2 separate regions of the Homo sapiens genome follow, and region 2 is linked to region 1. A link means that fine-mapping ties the variant in region 1 to the expression of a gene that starts in the linked region. Tissue or cell type: whole blood. Region 1 holds a variant in brackets; the other region holds the start of a gene. All regions are shown on one strand. Distances are from middle to middle.

Region 1 (2,678 bases):
TAAGACCAGACTAAGAAGAATACAATAATGTTAAAATACCCAGATCCCCAGAGGCTGGTGTGTCGCTGTGGGTTTGTTTTAGGGATGAAGAAGGGGAATCGATGGTCTGGAGCTAGACTAATGTCTGTGTCTGTTTAGTTTCAGCAGAGATGACCGGAGTTAGATAGGACTCTCATGATTTTGGGCACCTGCTCGCTGGGCTCTAAACCTGGGCCTGGATTTCACAGAGTGGAGAACCAGCCCCTGGAGAAGTCTACCTGCTAGTTTTTAAAAGGAAGAGGGAGCATTGTGACTCCCTGCCAGTTAGGCAGTGTGTAGCCAAGACAGGCTGCCCCCGACATAAGTCCTTTGGACCTCAGTGACTTCACCTTTAAGAAGAGAGACTTGGGCTAGTGGATTCTTGGAGCTCTAAAACTCCCTTTTTCTAGAACACGTCTAGACAGGCTTCTTCACTCCTTACAAGTTCTTTGATCCAGAGTTAAAAGGAACCCTGGAGTGGAGATAAAGCCCACCAGCTCCGTGCAGAGCTGTTGAAGCAGGACAGCAGGGGGCCGGGAGAAGGAACCCTCAGCAAAGCACAGGTGGAATGTGGTCTGCCTCAAGCCTGGGGTTGGATCTACAGTTTTTCTCTTAACAATGCTTTTGCCAGGTTTGCACAAAATTACCTAGCACCTTTACGTCTGGTGAATATCACCGCAGCATTAGGTAAAAACCAGTTCAGGTTTTATGATCAAAACAACATCTGGGCCAGGCGCGGTGGCTCACACCTGTAATCCCAACACTTTGGGAGGCTGAGGCGGGTGGATCACCTGAGGTCAGGAGTTCAAGACCAGCCTGGCCAACATGGTGAAACCCTGCCTCTACTAAAAATACAAAAATTAGCTGGGTGTGGTGGCGGGCACCTGTAATCCCAGCTACTTGGGAGACTGAGGCAGGGGAATCGCTTGAACGGGAGGCAGAGGTTGCAGGGAGTTGAGATCACACCGCTGCACTCCAGCCTGGGCGACAAGAGCAAAACTCCATCTCAAAAAAAAAAAAGAAGAAGAAAAGAAAAAGAAAATTTGGAGCAAAGTTAAGCTGCAGAGGACGGCACAACCAACTGTCTAGGGCCTGTCAGCCCAACCTGTCCTCCTACACAAAGGAGTTGAGTTTGGTGAAGAAGCATCATTTTGCATCATTTCAAAAGTCTCATCCTAAATTCTGTGACATAATCCATCACAAGTAGGAAGCACGCCTCCAGAATAGACTGGATGATGACAAATGGCAGCTCCCACAGAAAGAGAAGATTCATTGCCGCTGGGGTATTGTTTGCAATTCTTTTCAAGGTTGCACTGTTAATTCCCTTGCCCTCCTTCAATTTGGTTCATGGCATTAAACCAGATTTTTCCAGGGAGATTAAAGACGGGTTTGCAGCGGTATCAAAGAGTATCTCTTACATTGTTTGAGTAAAGAGATTAATAGTCATCTACTTGTTTCATTTACATGGAGTTTCCCAAAATGCTACCCAGATCCACAGGCAAATGCTGGGCAGTGACAAGACTGCTTGCAC[A/G]TGGAACTTGGAAAAAGCTTTTTGTTAAAAACCTAAATAACATCCTGTGTCAAAACAAATGTGACAATGGGCTATTATTTCTCTCCCCATAATAGCATGTTGTCACATCTCTGTGTCCTGCATGAATGGGGGAAGGGAGGCCTTGTGAGAGGGAGCAGGGTGGGGGAGGCGTGCTGAAACCTTAGAGAGGCACTTCCTGGTTTTGCATTTTCTAAAAACAGAAACTGCTCCTGGGGGAGATAACTCGGAGGTTAATCTCTGCAGGTGCCCGGCCACAGCCTCGCGTTCATTTCCAGAGAAGGGCTCTGAGGTTGCCTGAGAACACCAGCTACAGTGACCTGACCGCGTTTCTCACGGCCGCCAGCTCCCCTTCGGAGGTGGACAGTTTTCCTTATTTGCGAGGATTAGACGGAAATGGAACAGGTAATTGGAGTCTTTTCTCTTTTCAGTGGGAGTTACTGTGTTTTAGTCTTTACATGTGGATTTTAGGTATGATTGGGAGTTTTAGCACTATGTGGGAGAAAGGCACTGAAGGTGCAGAAGGGGAATTCTTGGTACAAGTTCAAGTGCTTTGAAACTGTGTTACGTCGGTACGAGCCCTGCAGAATTACATGTTAGCACATTGGTCTCCTTGAGCTTTTCTTCTGTTACCAGTTGCCTTAAGCACCTTCTCTGAGCTCTCCTTTGGTGGACTAAATATATTCAATTCAGAGAAATTCTTATTGAAATTGCAATTTTTTTAAGTATAAGATTAGACTTAGGGTTTTTGGCCCAGCTGCCCTCTGCCTCGTCCCACGAGCCCCCATTTGAGAGGGTAGCCTGTGGGTGGGTGGGGCTGGTAGAGACTTACCACCCCACCCACCTATGCTGCAGCCAGGAGGGGAAGAGGTGGTGCTTGGTCCAACTCAGAGACAGGCATACCTTGGCTCCATGCCCCACCGGCATGGGGACCACTTAGGATGGGGAGCCTCCGCCCTCTGCCATCTGTGTCCACCCAGCTCTTTCCCACATCGTTTCTTTCTCTGCACTTGCTCTCTCTGTCCTCAACTGGGCATAGAGTGGCCAGGCTTTGAATTTGCTTTAGAATCCGCCCTCTCCTGGCAGGTCTCTAAGTCAGCTGGGTCAGTAC
Region 2 (2,678 bases), 120 kb before region 1:
CATCCACCTACCTCAGCCTCCCAAAGTGTTGGGATTATAGGCATGAACCATCACACCCAGCCAAGTCTGGAGGTTTTTGTGAAGAGTTTCAATTTTGGGGTCAGACTGACTGTTTTATTAGAATTTTGGCTCTGCCACTGACCAGGTATGCACTTTTGGACAAATTCCTTAACCCTCTTTAGCCTCTTTTCTCATCTGTGAATGGGGGGGATAATGCTAACTACCTCTTAGATCATGTATTGTGAAGATGGACAAAGAGTCTCTGCTTGACCGAACTACAGTCAGGCTCCGGAACCTTCTTCTAGGCTCAGTTGTGCCCTTCCTTGTAAAATCTGCTTTCAGGAAGAACCCTGCTAAGTCAGTTTACCAAGAACCCTCCACCCTGGATATCTGATCAGCTTCCCCATCCGCCCTGTCCTGCCCAGCCCTGCCAGGGGATGTCTGACTTTCAAGAATCCCCCTTCCCCCTGATGTTTCCTCTTATAATTTTTCATTCCCTGCATCCCACCCTGGTCCTCGGTTATAAATCCCCACTTGTTCCTGCTGTATTCAGAGTTGAACCCAACCTTTCTCCCCGACTGCAGAATCCCATGGTAGGGCTTATACCTATTGCGATGGTTCCAAAGAGGGTCTTCTTTGCTGTGCTTTCACACGTGTCATGGAATAGTCTTTTTTCTTTAATAGGACAGAAAGTTTTAAAGCACCTAGGGCCTCAAAAGATGTGGATTTCCTCCCCACCCTAACCCCTAGAACCATCCAAGTACCATTCCTCCTGAAGCTGTCCACCCGCCAACACGTAGGTACTGCAGGCCTACTGCAGTCTATACTGGCTTGGGGAGTGTTTTTGCGGATCTTTAACACTGGGTGTGAAATCTACGTTGGGGGACACAACTACATTAGGATGGCACCTGGTGGGGGGGTCACACCCAGATACAATGTCTCCTGCGGCCCCTTGGGTGACCTGGTGTGATGAAAAGGGCTCCGCCCTGAAAGGCAGGTCTGGCTCTTCTGCGGGGCTGCGGGGATGGGGCGCGCCGGGGCAGTGTCGCCGGGGGTCGGGCTGGGGGCGCGACGCAGCGGCGCCGGGCGGGGGCGCCCTCGGCGCCGCAGCCGCCAGGTGGCACCACGGGCCCGGGGCCTGGGCGCGGGCAGCGGCGGCGGCGGCGGGCGAGGCAGGAAGGGGTTAAGGAGCTGGCGGAGCAGCAGCAGCCGCCGCCGCCGCCGCCGCCGCGGCTCTTCGGGGAAACCCGGCGCGGGGCGCGGGAGGGAGCGGCCGGGGCGGCGGGGCCGGGCCAATCGGGCGGCGGGCCCGGCGCGCGGAGCCAGCGACATGGAGGGGGGCGCGGCGCCCGGCCGCCCGTGACGCGCCGCCGCCCGGCCCGCTCTCGGCGAGCCCGAGCCGCCGCCGGCCCCGCGGCGGAGATGAGCAGGTCCGCGACGCTGCTGCTGTGCCTGCTGGGCTGCCACGTCTGGAAGGCGGTGACCAAGACGCTGCGGGAGCCCGGCGCCGGAGCCCAAGGTCAGTGGGCGGCGGCGGGGCCGGGGGCTTTGTGTCGCGCCGGGCCTGGCGCGGAGGCGGCGGCGGCGGCGGCGGCGGCGGGAGGGTCCCGGGCCGCGTGGTGGCGACGCAGCCCGAGCCGCATCGGGAGCCTCCGGGCCTGCAGCACCCGCAACGCGCTCCCGAGGGGGCGGCGCGGGCCGGCGACGCGGGGTGACCCGGGCGGAGGCTTCGGGGGCCGGGGATCGGGGGCTGGGTCGGGCGGGGGCGCGGGCAGCTCCAGCTGCTGTCGCCGCTGCGGCGGGGGCTCGTCTGGATGCGCCCGGGGGTCCCCTTTATGCCGCGCCTCGGACACGCGGCTCTGTCTCCCATGTCGCCGCGGACAGAGGGGCCGCCCAGGGCGCGCCGCCCGATCGCGCTCCCGGCTCCCCACGCCGGGCTCGGGTCTGGGAAGTCCCAGCTCCTGGGCTGCGCTGGGGCCTTTTGTTGTGGCGGGAGGGGGTGGCTGACGCCCCGGGGTGCCCCCTGTGTCCCGGGGCCCCGAGGTCCGCTGCCGCCACTAGCCACTAGCCTGCCGCAGTTTGGGAAAGTTTGGGGGGTTCTCTCCCCCTGCCTATCTGACGTCTCTTCCAGACCATAAGGGATTTGCTCAGCGGCCCATGAGTCTTCTCTGTAAGGGAAGAAAGAATTGAACTGGGAGGCCCTCATCGCTCACCAAAAAAAAAAAAAAAAAAAAGAAAAATCCTTTCCAGATCAGTTTGTCGCCAGCTCGTGCCTTTTGTCTCGTCTTTGGCCTCCACAAATCTGCTTTCCAGCCCTGGGAGTAACGTGGTCGCCTCTGAGAATGGCCACGAGCCTGTCTTTTGTTTTTAAAATCAGCGTTTTTTGAGGGGAGTCCCCCACACCCACCCTGAGGCTTGCTTGGCACATTTTTGTGGGGACAGCGTCGAGGACTCCTCTGTTGCTGGCGTTTTCAAAAGGGCCACTGAGGCCCGCAGATGAGCCTCTGCATTCACCCAGGGCACCGCTGCCTGGACTCTTGCCGGGGGCTCAGGTCTCTGCGAGGGAGCTCCCTGCAGCCCTGCAGAACCCCGGGATTCCGAGCCCGAGGCCTGTCCCCTCAGAAGGGTGTGTGTCCTGCAAAGTTGGCCCTGCAGGCCAAAGAAACGAGGAGTGCTGC

What was found. PIP is the estimated chance that this variant, and not a neighbour inherited with it, causes the effect.
Region 2: it holds the start of FAM171A1, and the variant in region 1 is fine-mapped to the expression of FAM171A1 in whole blood (TOPMed, PIP above 0.99). The same link has a PIP of 0.9 or more in blood mononuclear cells and tibial nerve.

What each region holds. Positions count from the first base shown.
Region 1 is chr10:15,254,015-15,256,692 of GRCh38, reverse strand. It overlaps FAM171A1 (family with sequence similarity 171 member A1), which reads left to right. Exons shown (of 8, transcript NM_001010924.2): 4 at 1,814-1,972. Among named protein-coding and RNA genes, the nearest start is that of FAM171A1-AS1, 47 kb to the right of the region's middle. RefSeq lists an enhancer at 336-979. The variant A/G (reference allele first, on the strand shown) is at 1,550.
Region 2 is chr10:15,369,797-15,372,474 of GRCh38, reverse strand. It overlaps FAM171A1 (family with sequence similarity 171 member A1), which reads left to right and starts at 1,186. Exons shown (of 8, transcript NM_001010924.2): 1 at 1,186-1,519. The coding sequence starts at 1,423. RefSeq lists silencers at 1,140-1,189, 1,200-1,429.